6 linked regions of the Homo sapiens genome follow. The protein of the gene in region 1 purifies or fractionates together with the protein of each later gene. This does not show direct contact. Each region holds a gene or a part of one and is shown on either strand. Other genes may lie near its edges.

What was found.
Region 2: the proteins of PALD1 (region 1) and UNC119B purify together in Homo sapiens (co-immunoprecipitation; 2 studies listed by BioGRID and IntAct, with this or other methods). This does not show direct contact.
Region 3: the proteins of PALD1 (region 1) and INTS7 purify together in Homo sapiens (affinity purification with mass spectrometry; one large-scale study listed by BioGRID and IntAct). This does not show direct contact.
Region 4: the proteins of PALD1 (region 1) and TBC1D15 purify together in Homo sapiens (co-immunoprecipitation; one large-scale study listed by IntAct). This does not show direct contact.
Region 5: the proteins of PALD1 (region 1) and CAMK2B purify together in Homo sapiens (affinity purification with mass spectrometry; one large-scale study listed by BioGRID and IntAct). This does not show direct contact.
Region 6: the proteins of PALD1 (region 1) and IKBIP purify together in Homo sapiens (co-immunoprecipitation; one large-scale study listed by IntAct). This does not show direct contact.

Annotation. Positions count from the first base shown.
Region 1 is NC_000010.11:70,537,767-70,541,266, reverse strand, and holds part of PALD1 (paladin), read right to left. Parts: intron 3,457-3,500; coding exon 3,361-3,456; intron 2,988-3,360; coding exon 2,859-2,987; intron 2,376-2,858; coding exon 2,259-2,375; intron 2,176-2,258; coding exon 2,020-2,175; intron 1,688-2,019; coding exon 1,505-1,687; intron 166-1,504; coding exon 25-165; intron 1-24.
Region 2 is NC_000012.12:120,716,958-120,720,457, forward strand, and holds part of UNC119B (protein unc-119 homolog B), read left to right. Parts: coding exon 1-85; intron 86-2,962; coding exon 2,963-3,075; 3' UTR 3,076-3,500. UniProt on the Homo sapiens protein: Myristoyl-binding protein that acts as a cargo adapter: specifically binds the myristoyl moiety of a subset of N-terminally myristoylated proteins and is required for their localization.
Region 3 is NC_000001.11:211,980,058-211,983,557, reverse strand, and holds part of INTS7 (integrator complex subunit 7), read left to right. Parts: intron 1-747; coding exon 748-882; intron 883-2,367; coding exon 2,368-2,465; intron 2,466-3,500. UniProt on the Homo sapiens protein: Component of the integrator complex, a multiprotein complex that terminates RNA polymerase II (Pol II) transcription in the promoter-proximal region of genes.
Region 4 is NC_000012.12:71,916,259-71,919,758, forward strand, and holds part of TBC1D15 (TBC1 domain family member 15), read left to right. Parts: intron 1-1,439; coding exon 1,440-1,539; intron 1,540-2,192; coding exon 2,193-2,290; intron 2,291-3,500. UniProt on the Homo sapiens protein: Acts as a GTPase activating protein for RAB7A. Does not act on RAB4, RAB5 or RAB6.
Region 5 is NC_000007.14:44,221,095-44,224,594, reverse strand, and holds part of CAMK2B (calcium/calmodulin-dependent protein kinase type II subunit beta), read left to right. Parts: intron 1-3,500. UniProt on the Homo sapiens protein: Calcium/calmodulin-dependent protein kinase that functions autonomously after Ca(2+)/calmodulin-binding and autophosphorylation, and is involved in dendritic spine and synapse formation, neuronal plasticity and regulation of sarcoplasmic reticulum Ca(2+) transport in skeletal muscle.
Region 6 is NC_000012.12:98,627,789-98,631,288, reverse strand, and holds part of IKBIP (inhibitor of nuclear factor kappa-B kinase-interacting protein), read left to right. Parts: intron 1-3,500. UniProt on the Homo sapiens protein: Target of p53/TP53 with pro-apoptotic function.

The sequences.
Region 1 (3,500 bases):
TCTCACTTGAGAGGCCACACGTACTTGGATGTGCCAGAAGGCCAGGACAGCCACCACCATCGCAGTTGTGGTACGGCCCTGGCCGCTGAGGCAGCTGAACACGAAGCCAGTGCCTGGGTCCTTGGAGAGGGCGGCCCGCAGGGCCTCCAGCAGCTGGTCAAAGTCCTGGACGAGAAAAGCAAGGTCTGGGTCAGCGGGCGTCTCTTGGATGCACAAACCCCAACAGGGTCCCCATCCACATGGCAGCCCCAGCCACTGTCCTCGGGCCAGAAATTGTCAGGCTCCCAAGCTTGCACACACAAACAAAACTCACCGGGGTGCATGAGACCATGTGCGTGTAAACAGCTGCACCTGTGCAGTCGTAATCACCCTCACACCAAGCACCTGGACAGGATGTGTGAGCCAACACAGCATGCACCTGGGGCTCAAGGTACCCACCCTCCATCAGGCAGGACATGCACCTGTATGTCACCCCTGTGTACTGCGCCCCTGGGCTGCACATAGACTGCTGGCCCTGCCACCCACCTGAGCTGGACCCAGCCCTGGTCCCACCATGGACGGGGGCCTGACCTCAGAAGAGCCCTGCAGCACAAGGCCACCAGGAGGCAGCAGACCGCAGGCAGTGAGAGCCGCGAAGAGATGCGCCAGGAGGGGCTCAGGCAGGGTAACAGACCCCATTGCCAGTTACACAGCACACAGCGACCCACCTACAACACACGCACCACGCACACGGTGGCTCACCTACAACACACGCCAGACACACGCACCACACAGGGATCCACGTCCGGTAAACACACACACTATACAGACACCCACAGTCACAGACCTACAGATGCCACACACACACATTCCTAACGACCCCTCCACAAACCCTACCACACACCACACCACTCCCCTAAAGATGGTTTTCCACACACAGCCCCCAATACAGACAAGGGAGACATCACAAACTCCATAAAAAGACATGCACACACACACACATTCCACACACCACCCACACACTCCATACACAGTCCCCCAACTGAGACACACACACCACGGACACCCTGGACATGTTCACCCTCAACACACACACACACCTTATAACAAATACACACACACACCTGTAACAGAATACACACACACCCCGATAACACACACACACCTATAACACACACCCATAACACAATACACACACATACACCCTACAACATAATAAACACATGTACACACATCTTATAACACATATGCACATACGTAACAGAATACACACTCCAATACACACACACCTATAACAATACACACACATATACCCTATAACACATAATAAACACACGTACACACACACAAAGCTTGGAAGGAATGTGAATAAACCACTTGGGCCAAATCGGAAAACCTCGTGAGACCATTCCCGGGCCCCGTAGAGAAGCTGGGGTCGTTTCATTCTCCCAGAGCCCAGACCAGAGGGGAGACAGGGAGGCCTCCTGTCCCTCCCCAGAGGCCTCAGCCTGAGCAGCACCCTCACCTCCTCTCGGGGGGCACAGAAGTCCGGCATGGGGATGCGGTGGTAGGTGAGGCCAGGACAGGCCCTGCGGTGCTGGCTGAAGACCTCCTGCATGGTAAGGCAGGTCTGGAACCTGTAGGTCAGGGGGCCCTCCTTGCCTGGGGGAGGCTCGCTTAGATGGGCCTTCAGCTGGGCCTCCAGGGTCTGGGCAAGGGCAGGAGGGAGGACACAGGCCACTGGGGCAGGCTCTAGGCTAGCCCTGAAAGGCCACAGCCTGCCATGGCCAGGCCTGGCCCTGGCTTCCAGTCCCATCCCTGACCCCCCCAAGCCTCAGGGGTCACAGCCACCCCCCAAAGCCAAGCAGGTTAGCAGAGCACTTTAGTGGGAATCCTGAGTTGGCCACTCCCTGACACTGCTCCTCCCGGGGCCTCAGATTCTCCATCTGTCTGCGGGAGTGTGAGGCCTTCTGAAGACCCTCCCAGGCCACTCCCCAGAAGCCTCGGAGGCAGGGGTGCCTAGAGGGCAGGGGGCCTCACCTCCAGCTGGTCAGGAGCCACAGGGGGCCCAGGCCACCGCAGGCTGTAGGTGTGCCCGTCACACTCCAACACGGCCTCCTCCCGAAGGCTCACCCAGACAACCTTCCGCAGCCTCCTCTTGGCGTCCGTCAGGTAGGCCAGGATGCTCCCCAGGGCCTGGGCACAGGAGGGCCGGCAGTGAGTGCTCAGCCCTCCCTCCCCAAACCCACTGGGGGACCCAGGCCCTGAGGGCCGGTCACCTTGGCGCTGGGCTGGGCCGTGCCGTAGATGGGCATGCGGGGCACCCGCCGGAAGTTGGCCACATCCATCTCTCTGACAGTGCTGAGCGCGTCCGGGGAGACCAGATCGTCCTCCCGCTGTGGGGAGAGCACCAAGCCTGGGACCCACAGCAGCCGACTGTAGCCGCAGAAAGGGTCAGGACCTGGCCCAAGGCAGACGGGGGGTGGGGTGGAACCCGAGCTTCACAGTTTACAAAGCACTCCTGCACACTTGGAGCTTCCCCCGGCCCTGGCAAGAAGAAGTGCAATGGTGCCCACTCTCTGGACCAGGAAGCTGAGGCTCAAAGAGAAGAAGCTGGAGGCAAAGATCATAGAACCCTGCCCAGAGCTCTTGGGTTTGAGACTGAGGAGAAGGTACCAGAACAGCTGCCAAAGCTGCAAATGCTTGCTGGGGCCTAAGCATGACCCCATTCTGTTCACAAGAGGATCCCAACACCCACAGCCTCTCTTCTTCACCTCCTGCAAGGGCAATGCTTACCCCAACCCTACAGGAATCCAGTGTTTAGGGGCCAGGGCCAGTACACAGCCATGCCCACTTCTCCGACTGCCAGTCATACTCACTAGGGAGCCCCTGGCGATGAGGTCCCTCGGAGCCACAGGGCCTGCTGAGCTCAGCGTCACGGGCAGGCGGTACAGCTCAGGGTGGGCACACAGCCAGCGGCTGAAACTGAGGGCAAAGGCCAGCGGGTACTGCAGCCCGAGGCAGAGAGACGAGGAATTCAGGGGCACAGGGCCATCCTGAACCCTCCCTGCCCACACCATGGCAGGGGAAGCCCCAAAAGATATCCAACATGGCCCAGAGCAGGGACAAGGGAGTGGCTGAGAGAAGACCTGGACGTCTGGTGTCCTGGTTAAGGACAGAGACAAGGGCCCGGTGGAAAGAGGTGGGGCCTCCCTATGCCCAGCTGCTCAGGGACTACTCCCGAATCTGGGTCTCTCCTGGCCTCCCTTCCCTCCCCGGTTCCTTGGGGGGTCTCCCTCCACAGCAAGCCAGTCACTGCGGTGGGGAGGCTGGGAGAGGCCCAGGAGGAGGGGACGTGGGTCTGCTCCTCCCAGGCCCCACCTGCTCATGAAGGTAGTAGTTAAACAGGATCAGGTAGAAGTATCGCTCCAGGCTCCACAGCGCCCTCTGCCAGACGCTGTGTCGGCTGCCGCTTCCCTGAGAGAGAGGACAGGGTGTTAAGGACAGACTCCTCAGGCAGT
Region 2 (3,500 bases), on another chromosome or scaffold:
GACTTTGATTTTGGCTTCTGCATCCCCAGCAGTAGGAACACTTGTGAACATATCTATGAGTTTCCCCAGCTTTCGGAGGATGTCAGTATGTATCCCCTGACCCTTACAGCACTCTAGATTCTGAGGGCTACAAGGAACAAACCTTGAAACCCATCTGGTCCAGCGCCCTGGCATTGTCTCGTGGCAGTGCTGACATGATGCGTATCTAGTCATTTGACCTCAGGCTTCTCATTTCCTATTGCTCCTGGCTCCTGTTCTAAACTCTGACTCGGCCCGTATGGGAGCAATGAAGGGTTTGTTTGTTTTTGTTTTTGTTTTTTTCCCCTGAGACAGAGTCTTGCTCTGTCTGTTGCCCAGGCTGGAGTGCAGCAGCGCGATCTCGGCTCACTGTAACCTCTGCCTCCCAGGTTCAAGCGATTCTCCTGCCTCAGCCTCCTGAGTAGCTGGGATTACACCACACTTGGCTAGTTTTTGTATTTTCAGTAGAGACGGGATTTCACCATGTTGGTCAGGCTGGTCTCGAACACTTGACCTCATGATCCACTCTCCTCGGCCTCCCACAATGCTGGGATTACAGGTGTGAGCCACTGCCCCCGGCCCTTTTGTTTTTTTCTTTTTTTTTTGAGACGGAGTCTTGCCCTATTGCCCAGGCTGGAGTGCAGTGGCGCAGTCTTGGCTCAGTGCATCCTCCGTCTCCTGGGTTCAAGTGATTCTCCTGCCTCAGCCTCTCGAGTAGCTGGGATTATAGGCACCTGCCACCATGCCCGGCTAATTTTTTGTATTTTTTGTAGAGACAGAGTTTCACCATGTTGGTCAGGCTGGTCTCGAACTCCTGACCCTGTGATCCACCTGCCTCATCCTCCCAAAGTACTGGGGATTACAGGCGTGAGCCACTGTGCTCAGTCTGAAGGTTTTTTTTTTTTTTCTTTTTGAGACGGAGTCTTGATCTTGTCACCCAGGCTGGAGTGCAGTGGCGCAATCTCGGCTCACTGCAAGCTCTGCCTCCTGGGTTCATGCCATTCTGCCTCAGCCTCCTGAGTAGCTGAGACTACAGGTGCCCACCACCATGCCCGGCTAATTTTTTGTATTTTTAGTAGAGACGGGGTTTCACCGTGTTAGCCAGGATAGTCCCAATCTCCTGACCTCGTGATCCGCCTGCTTCGGCCTCCCAAAGTGCTGGAATTACAGGCTTGAGCCACTGCGCCCGGCCGGTCTGAAGGTTTTAATAATACAGGCCATCCTTTTAGATGCCTCCTGTGGGAAGACAGTGCCTAAGGGAGATAAAAGGAGGCCTGTGACCATCCCTGGGACGCTGATCAGATAAAGCACCTCTCCTGTGCACTGTTAGTCATGGTTTTCCATTGTGTTTTAGTCATTGGCCCTTCACTTTTTTCTTAATCAGAGCTAGATGTGAAACTGCAGGCTAAATAGAATCAAGGCCAGAGGACTTCTTTTCCATTCCCTGCAGGATAGAGAGTTGATTGGATAAAGTGTTGAGATAGATCCAGCAGGAAGGAATGGGGCTGTTGTAGATTTTGGGGCAGGAGTGAGAAGGTGGAAATACTGTTTGAGGAAGAGTGGCCTAGACCTGGGGAGGGCACCAGAGGGAGAAGGCTGCTGCCGTGTAGCCTCGGCAAGGGAAGATGGGGACCAAACGAGAGAGAAAGAACAGCCCTTGTCAGTTTCTGCAACTTTGGCCTAGCCACCTCAGGTTCGCATCCTTTGTGAATAGTTAGGGAAAATTCAAGTCATTTATGAGGGTGTGAATAGAATCCTGTGACTAGTGATGCCTGTAGTTGCCTTGCTGGCATCACTGATTGGTCCTCTCAGAATCCCAGGTCCTTAAGAATTGTCATATTCTGAAAACCAGATAACCTTTAATCGTGTGGCAGTACAGTTCCCAGGTAAAATGAGGATTGCTGAGATGTGGGGCAGGGTGTTGACGACAGCATCTGGTTCTGACTTGAACCCCTCTTCCCAAGCTGGCTAGAATATGTAGATACTTGCAAGAAAAGATGATGTATAGTGTTATAAGTTTTACCCATGAAGCCAAATCAGCCTGGAGGGCAATATTATGCATATAAACCGAGTAGTTTTGGCATTGGTGGGTTCAAAGAACTTTAAAAAATCAGTTTCACTTTTTGAGAACTGTGGTGAGCAACAGCATTTCCTCCAGGGGACTCCAAATGGCATGTAATCATTAACTCAAAACTGATCAGAGGTAGTATTATCTTTATTCTCCAGTATGGTTAAAGACTCAAAATGGCATGTAATCATTAACTCAAAACTGATCAGAGGTAGTGACTGTTAATTATCTTTACTCTCCAGTATGGTTAAAGAGGTCTGGGCAATTGCCTGAACAAACAAGACTTTACTTTAGATCCCAAGACAGGCAGACCTATTGCTGAATCATTTGCGAGTTAATACCCAGAAGGTCTCCGGAGAAGGCTCCCTGCCCTGTGTTCCTTGCACTCATTCCAATCTAGGTTTCCTTGGGTTGTCAGGGTTGTGTGTGGAGGTGGGCACAGTGAGGCTCAGATTTCTGAATTTGGAGTGGAATGTCTAGAGGTGGGCCACTGACCAGAGGCCAGGGCTGGCTTTGGTCAGCTGAGAGCACTGAGTAAATAGGTTGGTGGGGTCCATGTTGGGAAGAGGGGTGAGCACATTTCCCTGGTATCTTGGCTGAAGAATCCAGGCTGGAGATGACAGAGGAGGCCATGGTGGAGAGTTGATTGCATCCTTATGTTGAAATGGAGATCATGTTCAGCTGGGGGGCCTCTGTGGTCTCCCCAGCTGTCAAGGGCTGCCTCCCTCTGTTCTGACCTCATCGTTATTCTGGCAGAGTATACTCTGAAGCGCTGGCTTATTTTGGAGGGGATGCAAAGTTTTCTCCCACCTACCCTGTGGGGCAGACTCAAACATAATTCTTTGCTTTTTTCTTCCCCCTTTGCCTGACTTGCAGTTCGTCTAATGATTGAAAATCCTTACGAGACCCGCTCTGACAGCTTCTACTTTGTTGACAACAAGCTGATAATGCACAACAAGGCTGATTATGCCTATAATGGAGGCCAGTAAGTGCTGCAAGAGTAGATAGGGGAGGTGCTTTGCCGCGGCCACAAGATCCTGGCACACGGAGATGATCGAAGCTGCAGTTTGTCAACACACATCTGGAACCTGGCCCCAGGAAGCCAAGGCTGGGGTGGCAGTTTCCTGCGCGCCAAAGGAGCTGCCAAACAGTGCTGTGTTTTCTTCCCCAGTATTTTTTCTTCCCTTTTTTTCCTGCCCCGTAGGTTGCAGAGGTACTATAGTAAAGTAAAAGGTTAGGATAAGGGTCCTGGAATCCAGATAAAAAAGTTTATTTTCCGTAGTTCTGGCTGCCTGTTGGTTGTCTTGACGACCAGGCATAGCTGTGCCTGGTGAGAAGGCTCTGGCCAGGCCCACCAGCAGGTCAGCAGCTCTTAAGGTTCCTGGGTGCTGTGGGAAGCTGAAAGGTAGGCCTC
Region 3 (3,500 bases), on another chromosome or scaffold:
AGCTTATTCAGTTATAACTGAGGGCTTCTCTACTGTAAATTACAATAGTTACAACATGAACCTTGCATTCCAGAATTTCAAATGTGAATTTTAAAAATTGCTGCAATCTATAGCATGGAATTTAAGGTATAAAGCAGAAGAGTATAATAACAGGGGCATTAGAACATGACTGATAAGTTTTATGAACTTAATGGCAAGATTCTTAAAATTTTGGGGCTTTGGGCTTTGATTCCACCTGTAAAAATAGGGTGTGTTAAATCAGATGATCCCAAAATTCTTTCCAGCTCTACAATCACGAATTCATATGAGGTATAAATGTGTGTCAGCAATCTGAGATGGAAAAAAAAAGCAAATTTAAATTTTTTTCTCTTTTCTCTCCTATCTTGAAAGTATGGTTTTGTCTGACAAGAGGCCTATAATGATACCTGTTTTAATCAGAATTCATTTGAACTCTTAGGATAGTTGTTTTGGCTTTTGTACTGTTAGTCAATTTTTATTAATATTTTTTAAGAAATTATACGTTGATTTTAGATCTTAGTCATTACGAAACTGTTGGCACATACCTATTTCAAGTACCTTAATGGAGAGAAATGCTGATATGTATTGATAGTGGGATTGTGGTAGGAAATTTTGTTGAAGTTTATTGTTAGAGACTTTTCTCAAAAATTAAGAAAATTGAACCTATGAGCTGAACTGCTTTTGAACTATTTGAATTACAATTTCTACTACTTTTCTCTGCTTTTTTAGGAAATGTGAGTTCTTCTCCCAGATCTTCTGATTTAGTCAAATTAGCCCAAGAGTGCTGTTACCATAATAACAGGGGCATTGCAGCTCATGGAGTTAGAGTCCTAACTAATATAACTGTTTCTTGTCAAGAAAAGGGTAAGTTTGATCAGGACTGATATTACGTATAAACTTTGGTTTAGACCTTGGACAGAATTCTGTTTGATTTTTTTTTAATCCCTTATTTTTAGCCTGTGTGCCTTGATCTACAAATTGACTCCTTTCAAAGTGTTCTTAGAGCATGTGTTCTTAAGACTACTTTATCCTTGTGAAAAATAATAAAGAGATGAAGACCTTGGGAGTGGAATTGAAAGGTTTTATGGAGCATTGCCCATTTCCTTCCACTGCTTACCTTTGCATATATGGTGCATATATGGTGGATAAAGATTGCTTAGGACTCTACCCCTTTTGTATAAGGTGGTATGTTCACTTATACAAAAACCTAGAAAATTTACTTAGGTTCTCCAGGGACTTAAATAACAAATAGTTTCACCTAGAGGCAAGTGAATTCACAGACCAATGTGAATTAAATTTTCACAGAATTTACTCTAGGTATATGTGGCATTAAACTGACTTGCATAATCAAGGAGGACATGCAAGGAAAATAATGCACATATTTTGTTGTCTACCTAACATCTTTTGACTTGTGTTCAAGAACAAGAAATGCATTTTGGATATTCCATCTGTTTCAGTGCTGATTTTGATCTTCATTAAGGATTACAAGCTCAGTGGTTCCTCTTATCCCCCCTAGCCTTCAGCACTGCTTGTTCCTAGTACCTGTTTTTTTCTAGCAACCTGACCTTCACTAGCCTTTACTCTGTTTGCCAAGCTCCTGCACTCAGGAAACATTTCTTAAAGTTGAAAGTTGATTCTGATTTGGATAATTAAGCCTGTTTTATATTGGCATCACAAAGAGTATTTTCTTCCATGTAACACAGAAAACTGCTGTATGTTCTCAACACTGAAATATATTAACCTAAAGGTAACTAATATATTCAGAACTTTCTAAAACCTTCAGAGAAATTTTAACCCTATGGTAGTGAAAAGATGTTCTAGTGCTGCTATTTCATGAGACATCTAAGAGGTTCATTCTTTATGGTCAGACTTAAAACAGTAATAAGGTTATGTGGAGACCTTATTATTTCCTAAAAGTGGTTCAGCTTTCATTAGAAGCTGAAAACTGTTATATCTTAGGTAAAAATGGACCTGCATAATTTATTTCTGATTAGGGAGATTAACACATACTGCATAGTTTGCTGTTCTTAGTATTTTCCTTAGCTAAGCTGGTGACACTATTTCAGTTTTGCTTTATTTATAGCTTTGTGGCTTTAGCTCTTGATTTAATGTGTATATTTTTATAAATACTTCAATAAAGTGGTAGAAATAAAGTCTGAAGATAGACTTTACATTCTAGAAGTAATGCCACATGTACTTTTTCAAGGAAGGTTAGGTTCATCCATTTAATAATTCCCTATATCTTAAACTCCTTAATGTTTTTTCTAAGAGAGTGTGTATGCATGTATATGTGTGTGTGTTTGTACACACATCACTTGACCATCATAAAGTTTACTGTTTTTCTTCTAGATCTTTTGGCACTGGAACAAGATGCTGTCTTTGGCCTGGAATCCCTACTGGTACTTTGTAGTCAAGATGATAGTCCAGGTGCTCAGGCCACTTTAAAGGTGAAAACTTTTATTTATTAAGTTGTAATAGATATATATGATGGTCTTAGGCAATAGAAAGCAAAGTTAAGCAGACATAGCTCCTGTACTCTTAGAAGTTTTAATCTAAGTGATTAAATCTAACTGATAAAACTACACTGATTTAATCTAACTGATAAAACCACAAAAAAACTGATGACATGACTGCAGCCGACTCATAAATGTTCATTAATTTAACATAAGCGTTCATTAATTTCCCAGTGGTATAAGCCCTAGTTTATAAGCCAAGGGAAGAATATTTTAAGGAATTTTCACCTTCACTTAGTTACAGAAATCATCTTAGAGATATGCAAGATTTTTAAAATGTGAAATGAGGCCAGGACAGTGGCTCTCATGCCTATAATCCCAGCATTTTGGGGCGGTCAAGGTGGAAGGATTGCATGAGCCTAGGAGTTCAAGACCAGCCTGGGCAGCATACTGAGACCCCATCTCTAGAAAAATTTTTTAAAATTTAGCTGGACATATTGGGGCACACCTATAGTCCTAGCTACTCATGAGGCTGAGGTGAGAGGATTGCTTGAGGCCGAGAGGTTGAGGCTGCAGGGAGCCATTATTGCACCACTGTTCTCTACCCTATGTGAAAGAATGAGACCCTGTCTCAAAAAAAATAAATAAATAAAATGTGAAATGAAACTACTCTTTTTGGAGTGAAACGTGAAATATAATTTGTGATGGTGCAAAATTAATGAGGAGAAGCATAGTTAATAGAAGTAAGAAACTGTTAGATAAACATTGGCGTTAGCTTGTCTAAGGTGTGGTTTCAAGGAAGTCATGGCTCATTTTAGCAGGTTAAGGAAAGTTGTGATATGGTCATAGTGATGAACAATAAAGATAGTAACATCATTAAGTGACAGCTAATAAGAAGTAGAGAAGGGAAGTAGACAACATGTGTTTGGCAACACATTCTGAGGGGGATCCTCAGAATCCCCTTGGAACCACAGTACATTTAAGACTTTTTTTAAAAGCAAATCTTTTTTCCAACAATTGTGGGTGTCA
Region 4 (3,500 bases), on another chromosome or scaffold:
ACTTTTTCGAATATGGTGTCTGTCATTATGGACATGTTTCTTTTTTACAGCAGAGTGGGTAGCAAATGTCTATGCCATGTTGGTATTCCCAGATCAGCTCTAGTCTTTGACTGTGTCACAGCAAAAATGATCCTGTTAATCAGAGTTGATTCTGCCCCTTCTCTATAGATCTCTCTGGTAAATGTGGAGGAACTATATCCTAAAGCCTTGAGTTAGTCTATTAATAAACTGGTTTTTAAAATTCATTAAAGAGAAACAGCTTATTGAGAATTAATAGACTTAAATTTTTTTTAAGAATGAATTGTTTCTAATATGATAGTTCTAATAAAGCACTATTGTACTGTAAAAGTGAAAAAGTAAGTGTGAAGGAGGAAATGTTTTTCTAAGGCTTTCACTAGGGTTAGGGCGGTAGGTTACCACAGAGGGATCGGGACATATGAGTTAAAGGGATCCAAATCATTTAAGAAGCCTTTCAGAGCATCAGTTTTGGTGCCTTCTGGCCCCTTGACTCAGGTGTTGGTAGGGAGTCTACTCAACTATGAAGTTTCTTTAAAGCATATGAACCCCAGCAGTTCCCAAACTTTGTGACCTCAGGGCCCCTTCACACTCTCCAATATTATTGAAGACCTGAAAGAGTTTTTGTTTATGTGGGTTATATCTGTTGATGTTTATGTGAAAAATTAATACTGAGAAACTTGTATTCATTTATTTATTAATTCATTAAATAACAACACATTCTACCTTAACATAGATCACTTTTTTTTAATGAAAAGTAACCTTTCCTAATGAAAAATTTACCGACACAAGAGATTGTTTTAAATTTTTCATTTTTAAAAATGTCTGGTTTAATAGAAGACAGCTGAATTTTCATATTTGCTTCTGTGTTCAGTCTTTTGGAGTATCACACATCATACAGCCTTTGCACTTGTGAAAGAATTTAAGTATGAAATCCAGATAATGTTTTAGTATTGTCCTGAAAATGGTTTTGGCTTTACAGATTCTCCAATGTAAAGTAATTCTTTAAAATGAAATACATACTAAAACTAAAATTAATTTTATTATGTATAATTTGAAGGAATATTTAACAATGGAAAGAATTTGATAAATATTTATTTCCCAAATGTGTGTTTCTTTCACCAAGTCTTTTATGCTGTGTAAGAAATAAATAGTCAGTCTGCAGTTGCTATGTCTGCATTCTTCTTTATCTAAGTCAAATGAATAGAGGAAAAAATAATCCTTAGTTTTGAGAGCAAGGATTCTTTCTCTTTACCCTCCCTTTTAGTGTTACGTTAGATTTTTGGTTAGTTACGCATTTTTTAAGATTACCAGTGTGGTATAAGTTCAGCATTTGTCCTTAGACATCATGTTTTAGTTATCAGTCATTATGTACTATAAAATATTTATTAAATATTACTTGTAACAATTATTTCCTTTTAAAGCATCAGAATTTTGAAGAACAAATGCAAGGCATGAAGACCCAGCTAATTCAGCTGAGTACCTTACTTCGATTGTTAGACAGTGGATTTTGCAGTTACTTAGGTAAGTTTAGTGAATCAGAACTATACCCAGCAAATTGTAGAGTAATGCATAGAAAAAAATGTAAAGAACTCTTTAAAGAAGCCAGGTGCAGTGGCTCATGCCTATAATCCCAGCACTTTGGAAGCCAAGGAGGGAGGATTACTTGCACCCAGGAGTTTGAGACTAGCCTGGCTAGCACAGTGAGACCCCATCTCTACAAGGAAAAAAAAATGCTGGCTGTGGTGATGCATGCCTGTAGTCCCAGCCACTCAAGAGGCTGAGGTGGGAGGATTACTTGAGCCGAGGAGGTTGAGGCTACAGTGAACTGGGATCACTCCACTGCACTCCGACCTGGGTGACATAGCAAGACACTGTCTCAATAAAAAAGAACTTAAAGACATATATACTCTATTGCACTTTCTTCGGTTCCATAAAAATGTGGAACCAAACTCTCTTTGTATAATTCTGCCTTAAACTTGATTCGTAAAATGTATTATTTGTTAGTTTTTAAAAAGAAGTCAGCCTTCAAGTTTGAAATGATTCCTTAACGTAGAAGACAAATGTATAGGGCCTTGAATTGCCTAAGATGCATAGGAAAGTTAGAGAAAAGTAACTGTATTCTGACATAATTAGCATAAGAGTAAGTCATATGTGTGTTTTTTTCTTCTGCATAGAATCTCAGGACTCTGGATACCTTTATTTTTGCTTCAGGTGGCTTTTAATCAGATTCAAAAGGGAATTTAGTTTTCTAGATATTCTTCGATTATGGGAGGTAAGTCCTTAAATTATTATGCAAATGTGATATTTATTATGAAAAGAAACAATTTATTCTGTAGAGTGTAAATGAATTATGATAGCCTTACTGAAATATCTAAGGCAAGTATGTTCCAAAATTCTGATGAACTGGTAGCCTCTTCTTAAAAATTAGTTTCACACTGAATATTTGGTCTTTTGGAGCTTCGTTCTTCAAATCACAATCTCTGTGAGATTTGGGGCCAAGAGGTATCCCAGAACAAGTGCTCTAGACCATTTGCTGCCTTTGTTCTTCCTTTGTGAGACTTGACTTTATGTGAGGCTTTGCCACATCTGTTATAGAGGATATTCTTATGTTTTTGGTGTACTCCTTTTGTTCCATTTTTTACCCAAGGCAACTCTTTATTTTTTCAACTTTTATTTTAGGTTCAGGGAGTACATGTGCAGGTTTGTTACATAGGTAAATTGCATGTTGCTGAGGTTTGGTGTGTGAATGATTCCATCACCCAGGTAGTGAGCATAGTACCCAATAGGTAATTTTACATCCCATGTTTCCCTTACACCATCCCCCCATGTGTAATCCCCAGTGTTTATTTTTCCATGGCAACCTTTAATGAAAAACCAAATCATTTCACATTTTCTAAAGTATTTGCTAATAATAAATCAGTGTGCTTTTTTTTTTTTTTTTTTTAAAGAGAAGGGGTCTTGCTATGTTACCTAGACTGATCTCGAACTCCTGGACTCAAGTAATCCTCTTGCCTCAGCTTTATAAGTAGCTGGGACTACAGGTCTACAGGTGTATGCCACTGTGTCCAGCCCAGTGTGCTTGTTCATAGAATGCTGGTATAATGATTGATCATACCTTAGGATAACAGAAATTCTTCCAAGGAAAGAATTGGGAGATAATCCATTTTGATTGTAAATCCAACTTTATACAGTGGAACTCTAGTGGTCTCTGAGGTTTTTACAGCTGGAAATGGATTCCTATACTATTGATGGCTGTGCTACCATTAGACAAGGCATTGTGCTGATTACAAGTTAAAAGTGGATTACTTTATGCTCACTTCCTCTGTTCTCAGATTAGAAGTAAAACCCACATGGTCTCTATCTGGAATCGTACTTAAATGTTTATCAGTTTTGTTAAATTAGTGTCTTAATTTGGGGGTTAAAAATGGGTTAATGTATTTATGCCTAGTGTTCCATTATTGGAACGCTAAGCATGTGGGAGT
Region 5 (3,500 bases), on another chromosome or scaffold:
GCCTGCCTGGACCTGTTGCCTCACCCCAAGAGAGCCACAGGCAATGCAAAGGCTCCTGTTCATGTCAGGGCACCTGGAAGGCCTGACTTGCAGAGGCTCTTGGCTCGTGCAGACCCCTCCAAGCCCAGGCCCTGCCCACCACCTCCCCTTTGTCTCTGGAACTGCCAGGACAGCTTGTCCTCAGCCAGCAGGTTTCCCGACCCGGGCACCTCTTCATGTTGGGCCCCCCTCCTTTCCCTCCATCAGGGATCATGCCCTTCTTCAGGGGCCTGGATATCAAGGACACAAAAGCTCCCATGTGCTATGTGGGGAGGCAGAGTGGGGGCTGGGTTGAGCTGGGGTCTGGGCAGCGCCATTCCGCAGGGCAGGGGCAGCCTAGGCTTCCCATCTGTGGAATGGGTGGGTGGGTCTCACAACGGACCTGCTTCCCGTACTTCAGCACGGTTACCACTCTTGATTGGAACTCTGACCATGCATCTCCTCTTCTGTTTACTTCACGCTTTCTCTTCCCATCAACTCCCATTTTAATTACAATTTGTTTAAAAGCACTGCATATTACTTCATTAAACAGAAGATTAGTTTCACTTACCATTAGTGTAAGGTGACTATAGAACCAAAGCAGACTGGAAACCAAATGACATAATGTCATTCTCTTCTCCATTCCAGCTGCCTGCTGCTGTGCGCCTGAGAACCCCTGTGGAGTGGGAGGGGCAGCTGTCTCTGTACATTAGAAAGGGAGGTTAACTAAGTGACAGGAGGTGTTTGGGACATGTGGACACCAGACTTCTCTCTTGATGCAAGGAGGGCAGAGCCAGGCAGCCTAGTGGGGGCTGGCTTGGGGGCTGCTGGAAGGACTGGCTACAGGTGGAAGAGAGGTCAGACCTGAAGCTTGGGGCCACCTCCAGGAAAGGACAGGTGAAAGTGGAGGCATGAGGCAGGGGAGAGGCAGGTGCCAGGCAGAGGGTGGAGAGGAGGCAGGAACATAGCAGCTGGGGCGGGGGCGGGCCTCAAGTGTCATATGCTACTTTCCTGGGGCCCAGGGGCAAGGACAGGAACAGCCACAGCATGTGTTGGGACAGAGCCCTGTGCCTTCCTAGAGCTGGGCAGGTGGAATGGGGCAGGAATGGGACTCGTGGTGGCTGCAGCAGGAACTGGAGGGGAAGGGGCTTCTGGATCCTGCAGCCTACCTTCCTAGAGGCCAGCTTTCCGGGGTCCACCAGGTGGGTGGGAACTGGGCTTGTGTAGCAAGACTGCCCTGAGGACCATCCATGACATGGTCTAGATGAAAGTTAGGAAAGAAAGGGAGACAAGCTGGCAGCAGAAGTACAGCTGGGTCAGGAGCAAGGGCCTTTCCAGATAGGGACAACCCAAGAGTGCACATGTGCCCACGCCACACAACACAGGCACACACGACACGTGCACGCTCATAGGCACTGCACACACACATGCACAGGTGCTCATGCATATGTATGAGCTTCATCTACACACATTCACATGCCGTCCTGCTTATGTGCATGTTTCCATACATGCACATGAATGCACAATCACGTGTACACACATGCATGTGATCACATACATGAACATGTGTGCACCCCACTCCTCAGGTGCCATCGGGCTCCTCCTGCTGTCACTGTGCAGCAGGGGACATGAGGCCCCAGAGCAGACAGGTGCAGCACAGGCGTTCCCAGGCAGTGCCCCACACACATGCATGAGCACACCCGGGCATGTGGCGCCTCCTTTGTGGACTCAGTCACCTGCCAGGTGGGCTCCCTGGTGGTGTGAGCTCCCAGAGGTCTGGCGAGAGAGATAAAGGCAACCCCACCACCAGGCGTGCTGAGAATTCCCTCTTCTGGCTGGGCACAGTGGCTCATACCTGTAATCCCAGCACTTTGGGAGGCCGAGGTGGGCAGATCACTTGAGGTTAGGAGTTTGAGACCAGCCTGGCCAATATGGTGAAACCTCATCTCCACTAAAAATATACACACACAAAAATTAGCTGGGTGTGGTGGTGTGCACCTGTAGTTCCAGCTACTCGGGAGGCTGAGGCAGGAGAATCGCTTGAACCTGGGAGTCAGAGACTGCAGTGAGCCGAGATCATGTCACTGCACTCCAGCCCGGGTGACAGAGTGAGACTCCATCTAAAAAAAAAAAAGAATTCCCTCCTCTGGGAATTTAGACCACAGACAGGTTGCATGTATGTGGCCGTTGGAGGCAGCACTCACAGCAAAGAGTGGAAACGTCACCACAGGGCCTGCCTTCTGGTGAAAATGGTGTCCTGCAGGGCGGGCAGCTGTTTGAGGGCAGGTGTCCCAGGTGCGGCCTGCAGCAGCCTGAGGGTCACAGAGCGCAGTGCTGGGAGTGCAGAGACTTCCCCCACAGGGAGAGTTCCCAGGAACCTGCTTCCGGTGCACTTCTGGGGGTTTGAGTTTTTTCCACGGACGAATTACTTTGAGAAACCACTGTTACTCGTGTGTATAGGTGAGCGTGCGTGTGCATGTGTGTTCTGTGTGTGAGTGTGCATGTATGTGCGTGCCTGCGTATATATCCTCGCAGATACGGCTAGGGACCTCACTCAGGACAGTAGTTCTGCCTGAGGAGAGTGAATGCGGCAAGATTGAGGAGAACACAGGCATCTTCAAACTACATGTGCGGTGCTTTATTTCTTTAAAAATGCGTCTAAAGCAAATAGGAAAATGTTAAGATTTGAATCCGTAGAGTGTGGGTTCTATTATTCTCTCCACATCTTCCATACGTTTAAAATCTTTTGCAATGAAAATAAGCTGTAGTTAAAGCAGCAATGCAGGCTGCCAGTGAGCGCCCCGGAGGCCAGTGAGGACCAGCATGGCTGGGTGGCCTGTTGGAATCCAAGGGGGGCGGGCAGGAGCTGCAGGCAGGCGCCCGGGAGTAGCCCGGGCATGGGGGTGCGGGGCAACAGGGATGTCTGCAGGGGTAGCATGTGGGCCCCGGACTGCAAGCAGGTGGAGCCAGCCGGATGCGGCTCCTATGAGAAAAGCGGGGAACAAGAGACCACGCTCGTTCTTCCTGCTGCGGGGACAGCCCTGGTCATCGCTCCGGGGAACCCTGCAGCCTGCGCCGCACGTGGCCGCCCCCTGCTGCTTCCTCCTCCCCGGCCTCCGGGTGGCCTTGCTGACGGCTCCTTCTCTGAGGCAGGTCTCTGCCTTCTCGCCTGGTGCCTGCACTCAGTAGCCCCCTCACCAGAGCTGCTGGGTGAAGGAAGCACTAAGAACCCAAGGCTCGGGAGGAGAGTGGGGCCGGGAAGCTGCAGGGAAGCGCAGGGCCAGGCCTGGTGGGCCCAGGGGCTGGCTCACGGGAGGGCAGGAGGGAGACTGTGGCGGACAGCACGTGGGGCCAGGAGGTGACCTCCAAGTGGATTGTGGGTGGGTTTTTTGTCCTCTTTCTGCATTTTCCAGGCATTTTGTAATGTGGATAGAATATTTCTGTTCTTCAAAAATACTTTAGTTAAGAAAAATAAGATGGAA
Region 6 (3,500 bases), on another chromosome or scaffold:
CTTTTGAAGCAGATTTTTAAAATATCATTATAGAATCCAAAAAATATTCAGTCTTGGCCAGGCGTGGTGGCTCACACCTGTAATCCCAGCACTTTGGGAGGCCAAGGCAGGTGGATCACCTGAGGTCAGAAGTTCAGGACCAGCCTGACCAACATGGAAAAACCCCATCTCTACTAAAAGTACAAAAAATTACCTGGGCATGATGGTGCATGCCTGTAATCCCAGCTACTCGGGAGGCTGAGGTAGGAGAATTACTTGAACCTGGGAGGTGGAGGTTGTGGTGAGCCGAGATCATGCCATTGCACTCCAGCCTGGGCAACAAGAGCGAAACTCCGTCTCAAAAAAAAAAATGAAAAGAAAAAAAAGAAATATTCAGTCTTTTCGTAGCTTTTTCTCCCATTCTGCCCTGGGAGTAATTTAATAAGAGGTCCCTTTTCACAAAGGTGGCCCTAAAGGGCAGCATAACCCAGATGGAGGGGAAAACAGCTAGACATGGACACCCATCCCAACTGTGTGACCTTAGACAAATCACTATAACTTATCTTCATCTCTATTTCATCATTTATTAAGTGAGAAATAATAAGATTTTTATAAAGATCAGATGAGATATACAGTAAGTCCTCAACGTCATCAATAGGTTCCTGGTCATCAATAGGTTCCTGGAAACTACGATTTTAAGTGAAGTGTATAATGAAACCAATTTTTTTCTCATCTACGTTGTAATGAAAGGACATCGAAACAACGTTGTTGGAGGAGCTGCTCTGAATAGTTCCACTTAAAGTCAGTTTCCAAGAACCTACCAATGACGTTAAGTGAGGACTTACTTTATATACAAATTCTTTGAAAACAATCAAGCACTAATAAAGTACTAGCTCTTTTTTTTTTTTTTTTTTTTTTTTTTTTTTTTTTTTTGCCCAGGCTCTTGTTGCCCAGGCTGGAGTGCAGTGGGGAGATCTGGTCACTGCAACCTCTGCCTCCTGGGTTCAAGCAATTCTCCTGCCTCAGCCTCCCAAGTAGCTGGGATTACAGGCATGTGCCAACATACCCGGCTAATTTTTTGTATTTTTAGTAGACATGGGGTTTCACTGTGTTAGCCAGGATGGTCTCAATCTCCCGACCTCAGGTGGTCCACCCGCCTCAGCCTCCCAAAGTGCTGGGATTACAGGTGTGAGCCACCGCACCTGGCCCTACTAGCTCTTTCTTTAAGAAAAAATGAGACCCGGTGTGGTGGCTTATGCCTGTAATCTCAGCACTTTGGGAAGCTAAGTTGGGAGCATCACTTGAGCCTGGCAGTTTGAGACCAGCCCAGGCAACATGGTGAGACCCCATCTCTACAAAAAAAATTTTTTTAGTAAATAAAAATGAAAAACGATTAGAATATGTTGGTGGCCCATAAATGCTAGCTACTGTGGCATACTAGTCACTAAATATTTGCAGATTAAATCTATAACATCTTGCACTTACTTGGGGTATACTGCTTTCAGATTATAGTGAGGCTCTGATGAACCTCCTAAACAGGACATTACCTTAGGTGAGGATAAGCTTGCCTCTTCAAAATACTGCTAATAAAACAACTAAACCTAACCATGTTAATGGTTAGTATTTCTCATAATTGATTTTAAAAGGAACTTGTATTATGGCTGTATGTGTACATTTAAAAGAGGTTTTTATTTCTTTGGATTTTTTTGTTTGTTTTCTTTAAATGTGTGTGTGTGTATGTATGTATGTTTGAGACAGGGTCTTGCCCGGTCACCAAGGATGGAATGCAGTGGCATGATCATAGCTCACTGCAACCCTGAACTCTTGGGCTCAAGGAATCCTCCCACCTCAGCCTCCCAAGTAGCTGGGACTACAGGCGCACACCACCATGCCCAACTAATTTTGTTTGTTTGTTTGTTTGTTTGTTTGTTTGATAGAGACAGGGTCTTGCTTTGTGCCCAGGCTGGTCTCAAACTCCTAGGCTCAAGCAGTCCTTCTGCCTTGGCATCCCAACATGTTGGGATTAAGGCGTAAGCCACCATGCCCAACCCTTAAAATAAATTTTAAACAACATTTCAGAGTGGTGTTAGTCATTCTTGTTGCATACTCTTTAAGTCTTGATTGGGGTGGACCTAGAAGGCTTAGGGTCATTCTTCCTAAGCATCAACAAACATATTCTTTGTACTCTGAGATGTAGGGATTACACAGAGGCATAAGACATGGTCTCTTCTCCTTTGAAATTTAGAAGCTTTCACATCTTCACCCTGCTAATTCATCAATCAGTCTGTTAATGATTCCAATTTTGGAGCCACTTCCAGGCCTTTTCGCATTGCCCTCCTAACTTTTTATCTCTCCTCAAAGCATCCATTGCCCCCTGTGCTAATTCTTTTGTGACGCTACTTATAATCTACTGTGATTTTTTTGGTTGCTAGTTTATCTCCTTTACTCCTCTTTAGAGCATACACTGCATCTTTTATCTCCATTTCCCTAGTACCTGATAATGGAACTACCTCACACAGGGTACTCAGTAGATCTTGTTGGGACTCTAGAATATATGATGTGGAAGATCTAAACACTGTCTCCCAATCAAATTGTGAAATCAAGGACTATGCTGTATTTGTCTCCACTGTCTCACACAAGGCTGGCACAGAGTGAACCCTCAAAATTTTTTAATTGTATGTGCTAAGAGGCAAATATGTGGCAAATATATGTGTAATAGGTGCTACAGGAATTCAGGTTGTCAGGGCTAGGGCTATGGAAGAAATGCTGCTCTGAGGAGCTGAGATCCGGTCTGAGCCTTGAAGTAAGGACAATGTAACTAAATAAAGAGGAGAGGAGGATAGCATAGGGAGAGGTTAGAGAATTTGAGACTTTATCCTAGAAGTATTAGGAAACATCAAAGGTTTTGTAACAGTGTACCATGATAGGCATACCAGTTTTTAAAAGCTTAGTCTAGTAGTAGTGTGTAGGCTAATTTAGAGAGCAAGCAACTGGAAGCAGATATTAGATATTACTTTTTCTAAAATACTTTCCTTCATCACTGAAGTCTAGGTTGGGTCTCCACCTGAGTGCTTCCATAGCTCTTCACCTGTCATAGTGCATATACACTTGTCTTTCTCGTCGATTAAACAAAGCTGCTTAAGGGCAGTATTTTGTATCTTGTTCAGTATTATGTCTTCAGCATAATGCTGCAAGCACATAATAAATTAATGATTATTTCTAGGCCTTCCTGTAGTCTCTAAAGCTGTTATCTAAGTGTAGACTAAAAGAGGTCAATGACTTGGCCTTCTATATTCCAGATACAGATTAGGAGGTGCCGGAGGCTTAGCATAATTTACAAATACTTAAAACACTTTACCATTCAATTTGACTTGTCTCACTAAACTGTTTTTTAATTCATTGTTGCCTTTGTATCTGTAAGACCTGATTCTAGTACTTTCTCTGCAAGAGGTTGGTCAAAAAAATTTTTTGGCAGAAACCCTTCCAGAATTATAGGATTTTAGGAAAGATATCAAATTGTA